4 linked regions of the Homo sapiens genome follow. Changing the gene in region 1 together with any one later gene gives a genetic interaction. Each region holds a gene or a part of one and is shown on either strand. Other genes may lie near its edges. The genes, in order: KAT8, KAT6B, KAT6A and ATG10.

Evidence for each region.
Region 2: changes in KAT8 (region 1) and KAT6B together harm fitness more than expected from each alone (negative genetic interaction), as found in Homo sapiens cells (one large-scale study listed by BioGRID).
Region 3: changes in KAT8 (region 1) and KAT6A together harm fitness more than expected from each alone (negative genetic interaction), as found in Homo sapiens cells (one large-scale study listed by BioGRID).
Region 4: of KAT8 (region 1) and ATG10, changing one enhances a phenotype caused by changing the other (phenotypic enhancement), as found in Homo sapiens cells (one large-scale study listed by BioGRID).

What each region holds. Positions count from the first base shown.
Region 1 is NC_000016.10:31,120,647-31,124,215, forward strand, and holds part of KAT8 (histone acetyltransferase KAT8), read left to right. Parts: intron 1-3,569.
Region 2 is NC_000010.11:75,025,566-75,029,134, forward strand, and holds part of KAT6B (histone acetyltransferase KAT6B), read left to right. Parts: intron 1-2,923; coding exon 2,924-3,569. UniProt on the Homo sapiens protein: Histone acetyltransferase which may be involved in both positive and negative regulation of transcription. Required for RUNX2-dependent transcriptional activation. May be involved in cerebral cortex development.
Region 3 is NC_000008.11:41,933,487-41,937,055, reverse strand, and holds part of KAT6A (histone acetyltransferase KAT6A), read left to right. Parts: intron 1-2,188; coding exon 2,189-3,569. UniProt on the Homo sapiens protein: Histone acetyltransferase that acetylates lysine residues in histone H3 and histone H4 (in vitro). Component of the MOZ/MORF complex which has a histone H3 acetyltransferase activity. May act as a transcriptional coactivator for RUNX1 and RUNX2.
Region 4 is NC_000005.10:81,978,455-81,982,023, forward strand, and holds part of ATG10 (ubiquitin-like-conjugating enzyme ATG10), read left to right. Parts: exon of another isoform or gene 1-395; intron 396-1,045; exon of another isoform or gene 1,046-1,224; intron 1,225-2,453; exon of another isoform or gene 2,454-2,963; intron 2,964-3,569. UniProt on the Homo sapiens protein: E2-like enzyme involved in autophagy. Acts as an E2-like enzyme that catalyzes the conjugation of ATG12 to ATG5. ATG12 conjugation to ATG5 is required for autophagy. Likely serves as an ATG5-recognition molecule. Not involved in ATG12 conjugation to ATG3.

The sequences.
Region 1 (3,569 bases):
ACCTACTTCCTCTTACTTACTTTTCATAGGTAAGAAAACAGACAGAGGGTAAGGGCTTCGCTGCAGTCTCACAGCAAGGAAATGGCACAGCTGGGACTAGAACTCAGGCCTCCGGCACTGGTAGCCTCTTTTGTCTCCTAGTAGCTGTGTCTTAGTAGAAAAAATGACTTGAAGTTCAGTGGGAAAGACGAGAATGTTATTCGGCAGTTGCTATAGCCAAGCACCCTGCCAAGTGCTGTATATGTATAAGCTCCTCAAATCCTTCCCAACAATTCAACACACAGGAATAGTTACTTTTTTGGTAGGTGAGGAAGCAGGCTGAGAGAGATTAAGTAACATGCCCAAGGTCACACAGCCAGTAAAACGGTGGGCTGGAATTAGAATAATAATGCCAAACACTTGTTAGCCGGTGAGCAGAAGTATTCAGCTAAATGGTTTTTGTGTGTGTGTGTGTGTGTGTGTGTGTGTGTTTTGTTTTTTGTTTTTTTTTTTGAGACGGAGTCTTGCTCTGTCGCCCAGGTTGGAGTACAGTGGAATGATCTCGGCTCACTGTAAACTCCGCCACCTGGGTTCAAGCAATTTTCCTGTCTCAGCCTCCCAAGTAGCTAGGACTACAGGTACCTGCCACCACGCCCGGATAATTTTTGTATTTTTAGTAGAGACGAGGTTTCGCCATATTGGTCAGGCTGGTCTCGAACTCCTGACCTCAGGTGATCTGCCCACCTCGGCCTCCCAAAGTGCTGGGATTACAGGCGTGAGCTACTGCGCCCGGCCTAAGCTAAGTGTTTTAATACATGACCTCACTGACATTTCACAGTAGGCCTGTGAAGTAAGCATGCAGAAGAGCTACAGATAAGTTTAGGGACCCAGACAGGAATTTGATCAACCAGCTAAATTGTGCTACCTCAGAGCCAGAGGCCTTAGCAATGATTTTGGTTTTTTTCTTAAGAGACGGGAGTCTTGGTGTGTTGCTCAGGCTGGACTTGAACTCCTGGGCTCAAATGTTCTTCCTGCCTTAGCCTTCTAAGTAGCTGGGACTACAGGAGTGCATCCCTGTACCTGCCTTGGTTTTTTCTTGTATTGATACTTAATAATTGTACATATTATTGTTATTTTTTTTTTTTGAGACAGCGTCTTACTCTATCGTCTAGGCTGAGTGCAGTGGCACAATCATGGCTCACTTCAGCCTCAACCTCCTGGGCTCAAGCAATCCTCCTGCCTCAGCCTCCTGAGTAGCTGGGACCATAGGCACGTGCCACCATGCCCAGCTAATTTTTTATTTTTTTGTAGAGACGGGATCTGCTATGTTGCCCACACTAGTCTCAAACTCCTGGTCTCAAGCGATCCTCCTGCCTTAGCCTCCCAAAGTGCTGGGATTACAGGTGTGAGCCACTGCGCCCGACCAAGTCTCAGTTTCTAAATTTATAAAAATCAGGAGTGCACACCAGAGCAAGATTTGTCAAAGTCTCCAGACACCCAGACATTTGTTACTTTCAGCTATTGCAGCTTCATCCTTCTGAGTACATGAGTTAGTGGGCAAGCCCAACATTTAAATTTCTTTAAATGGAAGAAAGAAAGTGGATAAGATAGAAAAATCAGGGTGTTGCACTTTATTAAGTGTAGGTATTGTTTTGAGAAGCTTTTATTTCACACCCAATAAAAGTGTGCAGGATTCCTCTTGTTCCAGCCTTACCTTCCCGATGATCCTAGCACATACTTGTGTGTATATACAGACATGTTACAGTGCCAAGTGTACTTCCTACTGTGGTGTGATTTAAAAAATTGAAATACCCTAAACTGGAAGAACTCCTCAAGGTCTAAACTGCCGAATCGAACTTCCTATTGTAATGGAAATGTTCTATAGCTGTACTATCTAGTACCGTAGCCACTAGCCACATGTAGCTGTTGAGCACTTGAAATGTGTCTAGTGTGACGAAGAATTAAGAATTTTAGCTGGGCGCGGTGGCTTACGCCTGTAATCCCAGCACTTTGGGAGGCCAAGGTGGGTGGATCACCAGGTCAGAAGATCGAGACCATCCCGGCTAACATGGTGAAACCCCATCTCTACTGAAAAATACAAAATAATTAGCCGGGCGTGGTGGCGTGCACCTGTAGTCCCAGCTACTCGGGAGGCTGAGGTAGGAGAATGGCGTGAACCCGGGAGGTGGAGCTTGTAGTGAGCCGAGATCCTGGGCTCACTCCAGCCTGGGTGACAGAGTGAGACTCCGTCTCAAAAAAAAAAAAATTTTTAAATTATGGGTGCAGTGGCTCACGCCTGTAATCCCAACACTTTGGGAGGCGGAGGTGGGTGGATCACTTAAGGTCAGGGGATTGAGACCAGCCTGGCCAACATGGCCAAAACCCCATCTCTACTAAAAATACAAAAATTAGCCGGGCGTGGTGGTGCACACCTGTAATCCCGGCTACTTAGGAGGCTGAGGCAGGAGAATCGCTTGAGCCCAGGAGATGGAGGTTGCAGTCAGCCAAGATCATGCCACTGCACTCCATCCAGCCTGGGTGTCCGATCAAGACTGTCTCAAAAAAAAATTAATTATCATTTTTTAAAAAAATTTTATTTTTATTTTTTCGAGACAGAGTCTCACTCTGTTAACCAGGCTGGAGTGCAGTGGTGCGATCTCAGCTCACTGCAACCTCCGCCTCCCAGATTCAAGTGAGTTTCCTGCCGCAGCCTCCCAAGTAGCTGGGACTACAGGCACGCACCATCATGCCTGGCTAATTTTTGTATTTTTAGTAGAGATAGGGTTTCACTATGTTTGGCCTCAAACTCCTGACCTCAACTGATCCGCCTGCCTCGGCCTCCCAAAGTGCTGGGATTACAGGTGTGAGCCACCGTGCCCAGCCAAAATTTTCATTTTTTGAGACAGAGTCTCACTCTGTCACCTAGGCGGGAGTACAGTGGCGAGCTCTTGGGTTACTGCAACCTCCGCCTTCCTGGCTTAAGCAATTTTTGTGCCTCAGCCTCCCAAGTATCTGAGATTACAGGCGTGTGCCACCACACCCAGCTATTTTTTATTTTTTATTTTTAGTAGAGATGGGGTTTCGCCATGTTGGCCAGACTGGTCTGGAACTCCTGGCCTCAAGTGGTCCTCCCACCTCGGCCTCTCAAAGTGCTGGGATTACAGGCGTGAGCCACCACGTTTAGCTGAGTATAATTTTAAATAGCCCTATGTGACAAGTGGCTACTTTATTGGACAGTGTAGATCTAAGATTAATTCCTCAACTGTTTTGCACTCAACAAAGACATACCTCTGAGTTGGCAACCAGCAGGGTGGATAACGGGCCAGTGGTGATAAAATCAAAGAATAGGTAATGAAACAATCATCCAGTTAACAATCAGCAAGGTTCTTCAGAGCCTAATTAATGTTTAATTCTAAATAAATTGCAACAATTAAGAAAAGTAGTGTTTTTGTAGTTCTTTATTGCATTTGCAGAAGAGTACTGTATTTTGTGAGAATTGGGAAATGTGTTTTAAAGAGATGTGTGAGGAGGAAAATCTTTCTTCCTCATCTTTACAGTGGTTAGGTTCAGAATTGGACAGACCAGGGGCC
Region 2 (3,569 bases), on another chromosome or scaffold:
TGTACTTTTTTTTTTCACATTTAGTTATTTCTGAAATCAAGGTATATATTATTATCAGTGTGAGCATTGAATGGAATCGTTTCTTTTTTCCTGGAAAACAAATATTAGTAAATCAATAGTACATTTTATAATCAGTAGTGTCGTAGTATATACTACTATAAAGATTCATCTAAACTAAGCTGGGCATGATGGCTTACACCTGTAATCCCAGCACTTTGGGAGGCTGAGGCAGGTGGATCACTTGAGCCCAGGAGTTTGAGACCAACCTAGGCAACATGGCAAAGCCCCTACTCTAAAAAAAATACAAAAATTAATCAGATGTAGTGGTGTGCACCTGTAGTCTCAGCACTTTTGGAGACTGAGGCAGCTGGATCACTTGAGCCCAGGAGTTTGAGACCAGCCTGAGCGACATGGCAAAACCCCATCTCTACAAAAGATACAAAAATTAGTCAGCAGTGGTGGTGTGTGCCTATAGTCCCAGCTACTTGGGAGGCTGAGGTGGGAGGATCACCTGAGCTCAGGGTGAGCCATGATCGTGCCACTGCACTCCAGCCTGGGTGACAGAATGAGACCCTTTCTCAAAAAAAAAAAAAAAAAAAGGAACCATCTAAACTTACCCACACATCAATATTAGCTTTGATAATATTGCATAACATAAAAATCAGTAAACTGACTTTCCTTTTAAGTTGACAGGGACACCTCTACCCCATCCTCTAAAAAATACACTGAACACCAGTGAATCGTCTTTAAAAGCACCCATCCTTGCCTGTCAGGTTGAGAACGTGTGCTCCCAGCTGAATCATGAGGGTTTATGGTATACTCTCTCTATTCCCTGGCCAAGATGACTCTATTCAGAACTTACTTTAATCTGGGGAACAGGCCATCTCATTTCCCTGGGAACCACAGGATCACTCTAGCTTTTGAAAAGCCACAGTTTTAAGAACATATGCAAGCATCTTCTTGATTTTCTTAGTTCACAGAAATGCTATTCCTGCATACAGTATTTTGCTGAAGGAATGACTTCTTACCCTGGGTATAGAGAAACCAAGCCTTATTCTTTGGGTTTTTTTTTTTTAAACAAATAACAAACTGCAGTGAGCGATCATTTTGTGTGTGAAAATGAGGTTTATTTCCCCTTCTTGGCTGTCTTCTCATATTATGCCTGATTCCTTTCAGGATGTCCTTCTTTCTTAAAAATAATTGTCAGAAAGCTCATCTTCTGATTTTGGGAGGTGTTCCAACAAAAGCCGGTAGGTCCAGTAGCACGTAGAATAAGAATGCAGAATCCAGCCAGGCATGGTGGCTCATGCCTGTAATCCCAGCACTTTGGGCGGCCGAGGTAGGCAGATCACCTGAGGTCAGGAGTTCAAGACCAGCCTGACCAACATGGTGAAACCCCATCTCTACCAAAAGTACAAAAAAATTAGCTGGGTGTGGTGATGCATGCCTGTAAGTCCCAGCTACTTGGGAGGCTGAGGCAGGAGAATCGCTTGAACCTGGGAGACAGAGGTTGCAGTGAGCCGAGATCATGCCACTGCACTCCAGCCTGGGCAACAGAGCAAGACTCCGTCTCAAAAATAAAAAGAATGTGGAATCCGGGGGCACTGGCATGGCTATTACCTGCCATTGTGAATAGAAATGTCCTGAGATGACTCTTAACTCGGGCATGGTACTCGGCACTTCTCAAGGAAACATTCTACATCACATATGTGTTCTTTTCAGCTGGTCGGTTTGAATGTAATACTTGCAGGTAAGTTTATCTGTAATCCTTTTATTACCTAAATCAGCCAGTGCTTACTCTGCTGTCCACCAGTTGGACTAGAACTCACTCTATTCTGGCAGAAGGGATATCTGTTTTATGATGATTGTGAGATCTTATTTTTATTCTCCAAAATAGAGTTTCTAATAAGACTATTGTTCTATATAAAGCTTTTCCTTTAAATTGACCACTGATTCTAGAAGATTGGTGTAATCTAAAGATCTTAAGAATACTTGGGTGCTTCATGCATATATTTATTAATATATATTTATTAATATGTATATAGCTATTCATCTGCTTGTATAAATATGTACATATTTACATTTATATTAACATGTGCATATAGGTTCAGTAAAAAGCTCACCTGAACTGAAATGAACTTCACAATTATGGTTTGTTTCTAAGTGTCTTTAATATGCAAACCTTACATCAGCAACATATTGATCCAGAATTCAGTGTGGACAGAATTAGTGTTAAAAAGAATACCTGTATTTTAAATGTTCAGGAATTTGCTAGTAATTACATTGTAGTTTGTATCATGCAAAAATGATGATCCTAAAAATGATGATTACAAATGCATTTGTTTTGGGTATTTAGTTATTTACTGATTTGTTTCAGAGGTACACAGCTTATTTTTATGCCAGAGAGAACATTCAAATCAAAGTAAATAAATCATGTCTTCCAAGATCATTTACATCCTATAAATGTCCACAAACAGAGGTTTACTTTCTCTAGGTAGATATGAGAGTTAAGGCTTCTAGTCATTTTTCCAGGACAGTAATGATTTGTATATAAGCTAGCATTAATTCCTTTCCCCTATATTTCCTAATTTGTAAATGTTCAAATTGATTTTTTTTTTTACACTGTGGAACTCTGGGCTTTTGCATCAGAGAATGTCTTGTTCATTAAATTCAAATAAGCACATTAGCATTGCCTATATCCATGTGTTCCCAATATGTTACTCTCCCAGGCCTAGGTTATTTACTTGGTTTATAACACAATATTATTACACATTAGCCTTGATTATGTCTTTACCATCAACTTTTAACATGCCAAATTGAAAGCAGTGTTTGCTAATTAATTTAGAGGAATGAATTCAAGTTGCCCATGGTTATGCTTTCTAAGACTGTTTTTTTTCCTTCCCGTTTTTGTCTCTTCACTAAGACAATATGAATGATGATTCAAGTAACTTGAAAGAAGGCAGTAAAGACAATCCCGAACCTCTAAAGTGCAAACAAGTGTGGCCAAAAGGAACAAAGCGCGGTCTATCTAAGTGGAGGCAAAACAAAGAGAGGAAGACCGGATTTAAACTGAATTTGTACACCCCGCCAGAAACACCCATGGAGCCTGACGAGCAGGTAACAGTGGAAGAACAGAAGGAGACTTCAGAAGGAAAAACCAGCCCCAGTCCCATCAGGATTGAGGAGGAGGTCAAGGAAACTGGGGAAGCCCTGTTGCCTCAAGAGGAAAACAGAAGGGAAGAAACATGTGCCCCTGTAAGTCCAAACACATCACCAGGTGAAAAACCAGAAGATGATCTCATCAAACCTGAGGAAGAGGAAGAGGAGGAGGAGGAGGAAGAGGAAGAAGAGGAAGAAGAGGAAGGGGAAGAAGAAGAAGGAGGAGGAAATGTAGAAAAAGATCCAGATGGTGCTAAAAGCCAAGAAAAAGAGGAACCAGAAATCTCCACGGAAAAAGAAGACTCTGCACGTTTGGATGATCACGAAGAGGAGGAGGAAGAGGATGAAGAGCCATCCCACAACGAGGACCATGATGCCGATGACGAGGATGACAGCCACATGGAGTCTGC
Region 3 (3,569 bases), on another chromosome or scaffold:
CTATTAATTTGCCTCTGCAGAAAATATCTTACTATTAGGCAACTGTTCTTTTTTGCCCAATCCTTTCTAAGCCTTTATCAGAATCTTTAGTTAATGGGAGAGTTGGACTTAGCATCAGGAAGATGTAATAACCCTTCACTAGAATGTGCATTCTCTAGACTTAGTCTGTTTTGCTCATTGCTGTATGCTGAGTGCTTAAGCCCGGCGCTCAGTAAGTAGTGTTAAATGAGTGAATGCTAAGAAGACAATTCTCCAGAAAGAGCAGATTCATGTAAATTGGAACTTGTGTCACATCTGTTCAGGAGTCTTTCCTGAATTGTATCTCTAATGTGTCTTACCCAACTAGTAGTAAATTTCTCACAAATGGTAACAATAACTCAAAATAAATTTTATAGTATAGATACAAATCCAACTATTTACTTTTAAAGCAGCCTAGTTGTCATTTCTTCTCTAGAGACACTGAAACTAGGTCTCATATATATGAGCCAGGTCAGAAACAAGTCTTTTTCACCCTAGCCTAAAGTTTTGCCAGTGTCTCATGCTGCCTGCATCTGCAGTGTGTTTATCTCGCATGGGCTCAGAATGAGCATTTTTACTTTGTTGGGCAAATTTGAAGAAATCTACTTGTCCAGTCTTGGTACATAAACCTTTAGCTTTTATGCATTAACTGGTTGAACTTTTTAATTCTTTTAAAAATTCAGTCAGTTTCAAGTCTAGAAGATAAACTTACATTTTCTCCATTCTCATATTTTCTATATAACAAATACTTTTTTATTTTTTATTTTTTATTTTTTTGAGATGGAGTCTCCCTCTGTCACCCAGGTGGGAGTGCAGTGGCACAGTCTCAGCTCACTGCAACCTCCACCTCCGGGTTCAAGCGATTCTCGTGCCTCAGCATCCCAAGTAGTTGGGATTATAGGTGCACGCCACCATGCCTGGCTAATTTTTGTATTTTTAGTAGAGACGGGGTTTCACCATGTTGGCCAGGCTGGTCTCAAACTCCTGACCTCAAGTGATCCACCCGCCTTGGACTCCCAAAGTGCTGGGATTACAGGTGTGAGCCACCCTGCCTGGCCAACAAATACTTTTAATATAGTGATAAGATGAATGTGTTCTTTGCTCTATCATGAATGATTCTACAGAGTTTAACTTGCTATGTTTTGAAATAACATAACTAGGAAACTAAAAATTTATTTTGTAAATTTAGCACTTTATATTCTGTCTTAGATCATTGTACACTAAAATAGTACCCCTGATTAAGTTCCCATGGACTTAGATTTTTGCTGATGCAGCCATTTCCTTTGTTGACTTTCAAGTTACTACTACTAACTGTGCCTTTTTAGCCGTGCCCCCACTGCATCATGTTCTTGTCTTGGTATTCTTATTCTTTAAAAATTAATAGGCAATGTGAGTGTACTTAATGCCACTGAACTTAACACTTATAAATGGTTAAAATTTTAAGTTTTATGTTACGTATAGTTTACCATAGTTTTTTTAAAATGCTAATAATATAAAATTTATTTCTAATGAATGTAATTGGTGCTTTAATTTTTTCTTGTTTGTCTAAGTCTAAATGTCAGTTTTTGTCTAGGACTAAATAAATGCTTTGCAGCTATTCCCATACAAACACAACATTAATTGAACAACTGTTCACATACGATGGCTCAGTCATGGCCTAGAGTAATTGGCTCATCATACTACCTGAAGTGATGATTTGTGGAAAGTAAGAAAATCCGAGAGATAAAGTAAATCACAAGCAGAAAAAAAAAGAGGAAATAAGCTAATTTGTAACTTTTAGTAGAGACAACTTGATAAAAGTACTGCTTACTACTTATTTGCCTCTTTATAAAGTTCATCTCCATTTTACAGATGATGAAACTGAAATGTAGAGTAACTTCCCACAGACATGCAGCTGATGATGGTAGTCTTGAATTGGTTCTGACTAGTGTCTGATAACATAATGTTGACCAGGATTCTTTCATAGTTCTGCCAATTCACTGTGTGACTTAGAATATGTCACTAATTAGTTTTATCCTCTAGGTTCTTAACTTTAAAATGAAGACAATCAGGAGTTTATAAAAGTAATGATTAATAAAGTCATTTCTATTGTATATGCTAGTCTTGGAAGAAGGAACTAGAAAATGTAAGACCTTGTAACCTGTCTTTGTTTTTTTTCCTTCCTGTATAGACACTCCTATCTTAAAGCCAGTATCTCTTTTGCGAAAACGTGATGTGAAGAATTCTCCTCTTGAGCCAGATACATCCACACCTTTGAAAAAGAAAAAGGGATGGCCCAAAGGCAAGAGCCGCAAACCAATCCACTGGAAGAAAAGACCTGGTCGAAAACCAGGATTTAAGTTGAGTCGGGAAATCATGCCAGTTTCTACTCAAGCATGCGTCATTGAGCCCATCGTTTCCATTCCTAAAGCTGGACGTAAACCCAAGATCCAGGAGAGTGAAGAAACTGTTGAGCCAAAAGAAGACATGCCCCTACCCGAGGAGAGGAAGGAGGAGGAGGAGATGCAAGCAGAGGCAGAAGAGGCTGAAGAGGGTGAGGAAGAGGATGCAGCCAGCAGTGAAGTCCCAGCAGCCTCTCCAGCAGACAGCAGCAATAGTCCTGAGACCGAAACCAAGGAGCCTGAGGTGGAGGAGGAAGAAGAGAAGCCCCGTGTCTCAGAGGAGCAGAGGCAGTCAGAGGAGGAGCAGCAGGAATTAGAGGAGCCAGAGCCAGAGGAGGAGGAAGATGCAGCTGCAGAGACTGCCCAGAATGACGACCACGACGCTGATGATGAGGATGATGGCCACCTGGAGTCCACAAAGAAAAAGGAGCTAGAGGAACAGCCCACGAGGGAAGATGTCAAGGAGGAGCCTGGTGTTCAAGAGTCTTTTTTAGATGCTAATATGCAGAAGAGTAGGGAAAAGATAAAGGATAAAGAGGAAACCGAGCTGGATTCCGAAGAGGAGCAGCCTTCCCATGACACGTCCGTGGTGTCAGAGCAGATGGCTGGGTCTGAGGACGACCACGAAGAAGACTCCCACACTAAGGAAGAGTTAATCGAATTAAAAGAGGAGGAAGAGATTCCTCATAGTGAGCTGGATCTGGAAACTGTACAGGCAGTGCAGTCTTTGACTCAAGAAGAAAGCAGTGAGCATGAGGGCGCCTACCAGGACTGTGAGGAAACTCTTGCGGCGTGTCAGACCCTGCAGAGTTACACCCAGGCTGACGAGGACCCTCAGATGTCCATGGTTGAAGACTGTCATGCGTCAGAACATAATAGCCCTATCTCCTCCGTTCAGTCTCACCCCAGCCAGTCAGTCCGTTCGGTCAGCAGTCCCAACGTGCCTGCCCTTGAGAGTGGCTACACCCAGATCAGCCCAGAACAAGGATCCCTGTCCGCACCCTCTATGCAGAACATGGAGACCAGCCCCATGATGGATGTGCCTTCCGTATCAGACCACTCTCAGCAGGTGGTGGACAGCGGCTTCAGTGACCTGGGCAGCATTGAGAGCACCACTGAAAACTATGAGAACCCAAGCAGTTACGACTCCACGATGGGCGGCAGCATCTG
Region 4 (3,569 bases), on another chromosome or scaffold:
TGACTAGAGTTTGTTGTACTAGTCCTACTACCCACTGTTCAAAGGCAGCAAGAGAGTTTGAGCTGTGGATCAGCTCAAATTGTCATCAGTGGTGGAACATTTTTTCTTATGTGCTTGCAGAGTTTTATTAAAAAATTATCTTTTGATAAAAGTAATGATACTGGTATCAGAAAGATTGGATGTCATATAGATCTGTGGTTTTTTTTGTTGTTGTTTGTTTGTTTTAGAGACAGGATCTTGCTGTCTCCCAGGCTAAAGGGCAGTGTCACGGTCATAGCTCACTGCAACCTTGAATTCCTAGCCTCAAGTGATCCTCCTACCTCGGCCTTGCAAAGTGTACATCAGTTTGTGTAAGAAAGGTCCAAGAAGTGAACAGGCCTGAAAGTTGAAGAAAGGTACTATAAATGAGAAGAGGTGTATAGAATAAGTCCATTCAAATTTTTGAATTTTTCTTTTTTTTTTTAAGATGGAGTCTCGCTTTGTCGCCCAGGCTGGAGTGCAGTGGCACAATCTTAGCTCACTGCAACTTTCGCCTCCTGGGTTTAAGTGATTCTCCTGCCTCAGCCTCTGGAGTAGCTGGGACTACAGGTGCACATCACTGCACCTGGCTAATTTTTGTATTTTTAGTAGAGAAGGGATTTTGCCATGTTTGCCAGGCTGGTCTTGAACTCCTGACCTCAGGTGATTCTCCTGTCTCAGCTTCCCAAAGTGCTGGGATTACAGGCGTGAGCCACGGTGCCTGGTCTGAATTTTTCTTTTATTCATTTACAACTTAAAAAAAAATGTTTACTGGCTGGGCACGGTGGCTCACACCTGTAATCCCAGCACTTCCAGAGGCCGAGATGGACGGATCACGAGGTCAGGAGATCGAGACCATCCTGGCTAACACGGTGAAACCCTGTCTCTACTAAAAAATACAAAAAATTAGCTGGGCGTGGTGGCGGGCCCCTGTAGTCCTAGCTACTCGGGAGGCTGAGGCAGGAGAATGGCGTGAACTCGGGAGGCGGAGCTTGCAGTGAGCCGAGATAGCACCGCTGCACTCCAGCCTGGGCAACAGAGCGACACTCCGTCTCAAAAAAAAAATGTTTACTGTTTGCCTATCTGTTATAGATGCTAAGATACGAAGTGTAAATCAAATCCCCAGACATTGCAGACATTGCTCTATCATCTGGCATTTGTTGCAGTGGGTGAAGATGGCAGAGGCTACCCTGATTTTTGCTAATTGTAGGTAAACCTTTTTTTTTTTTTTTTTGCCTGCATCTTTTTTTCTTTCTAGTCTTTAAATTAAGATATTCCTGTAGGCTATGTTTAGGCATAAGTTTCTTTCCAGCAGCTTTGTTTTTTTTAGAAACATGGTGAATTCTTTCAATTTATAGGTAAATATTTTAAATCTTTTTTTTTTTCCATCTTAGAACAGTTTTTCAGTTGTACATTTGCTTATGATTGTAGTTCAGAAATTCCAGTTATTTGTAGGTTGGACCTGTGTTCTTTGTCCTTCCATCAAACAATATGCATTATTTTCATCATGGTCTTTTTTCTTTTGTGTGTTTGGAGAGGATCTTATGTGCTTATACACTGAAACACGAATGTGATTTTTTTCCAGCTTCTATACATCTCTCTGTTGCCTTGAATGTAGAATTTTTATCTCTACTGTTACGTGTTTGAATTTCCTTCCAGTTTTTTCTTATCCAGTTTCCTTTTTCATCTCAGCTGTTTTTCCTTCCTCATCTCTTGCTTTTAGAGGTCTTTCCCTTTCTCTTTTTCTTTTTAAAATTGGGAACATAGAGTAGATAATTCCTCGGTTTGATTTCCATATTCCTAGTGTAAGTCCATTACAGGAGCAAGCTTTCCCTCTTCCTGTTTATGGTAGTTCCCCTCTTTTCTTATGCAAGAGCTTCTTAAAGGTCTTGTGTTGTTATTAATGTTTTTGGTTTACTTACCTTGACAAAAGAGGGGCATGTTGACTGGTCAGAGTGACCAAGTGTTCCTTCGTCTCTCTCACTACACTTGGAAGCTGGAGGAATCTTCCTCTTTATGTTAGCTTGGAAAGCAGATGAATGGGTACAACGAAATTTATGAAGGATAGATCATTTTCTATACTTAGGAGAGGTCTTCCTTTCCTAGTGTTGAATCTTTCGGTCCTGTAACTATAATGAGGGGAGTGTTTTTGTGTGATTTGAAATAATTTATAGTTTTTTTTTTTTTAGTTTTTTGGGGTGTTAGTGGTGAGACTGTACTATGCTGAGAGCTCATTCTGTTCCTGCAGCTACCTGTCGCTCGCTGCACAGTACTCAGTGCACCTCAGGGCTTTACCTTCCACATCTGGCCATGCACACTGCACTACTGGGAGAGAACTGCCTTGAAAGAGAATTACCAGTGGAGCTAGAAACCAGGAGGGGAGGGGCAACTCAGGATCTGTTTCTCTGAAGGGAATGGGAGAGAGTGAAATGACCCTCTTTCCCCTGACCTAGTGATAGAGAGGTCAGAGCAAGCCTCAGCTACCAACAGAGATTCCTCATTTCCAGCCAGGTACAGTGTTGCCTCTCATTTAAACTTTGATTTGGAATATGTATTCCAATGGGAAGGCAAGGAGGGAGAATTGAGCCTGCTGGTCATCTGTTGTTAGGACTGATACGACTTCTCTTCTGATGTGTCTCTGTGCTATTTTATTGGATTGCCCAGGGCCATGCCTTCTGTGTCCCACCCAGGCTGCCAAATGTCTTGAAATCCAGGTCTTTTACCAGCCCTGTCAAAGTGATTCATCTTTTGTCTAGGGATCATGCTAATCTTTTAGCATGATTCCCTTTGAAAGTATCCCAGGTGCTAATTAAAAGTAATTATTTTGGGTCTTCAGAATCAGGTTATTTTTCTGGCCAAGGCCTAGGATTCCACATTTGAATTTGCACTGTGGGTGCTTCTTTGCTGTCTAAAATTTGAGGACCACTGCCTAAGGACCTTGCTAGGTAAGTGATTAAATTAATCTGAATCAATTCAAGCCAAATTGCCATAAAAGTAGTGGGTTGATGTTTAACTCTCCTACCTGATAGTGCATGTTTTTTAAAAAAGAGTCTACACTTAGAGTTATAAATAATGTGGAATTGTTGCTAGGAGGGACAAGTATTCAGGAAATTGCCTACTTTATTAGTCAAAAATGATTTTTAATGTTTAAATGTATGCATCGCATGTTCTGTGGTAATCACATTTTTGTAAATGATCTTAAGTTCTGGGAAATTCAGTTATATTTCTTATAGTGTTTTAGTCCTATTATGACTTTGATGTACATTGATTTATAGATTCATCAAATCAACGTCTCCAACTAAAACAATAACAAAGAATTAGTTCTACACACATTAGATTAAAAATCACATTAAACAGTATGGAGAGTGGTAGTGAAAAAATTGTTTTCAATTAAAAAGGATCATTTAAACAATGATTATATACAGTGTTAGAATTCACTAAGGCTGCTTTTCTGGAAAGATATATTTGAACAGCAGCAGAATAAGCTTCTTCTATCCTTCTAGTCTAAGGGCTAACTTACAGTTTGGAAAGACTACCCTCACTTGGAAAAA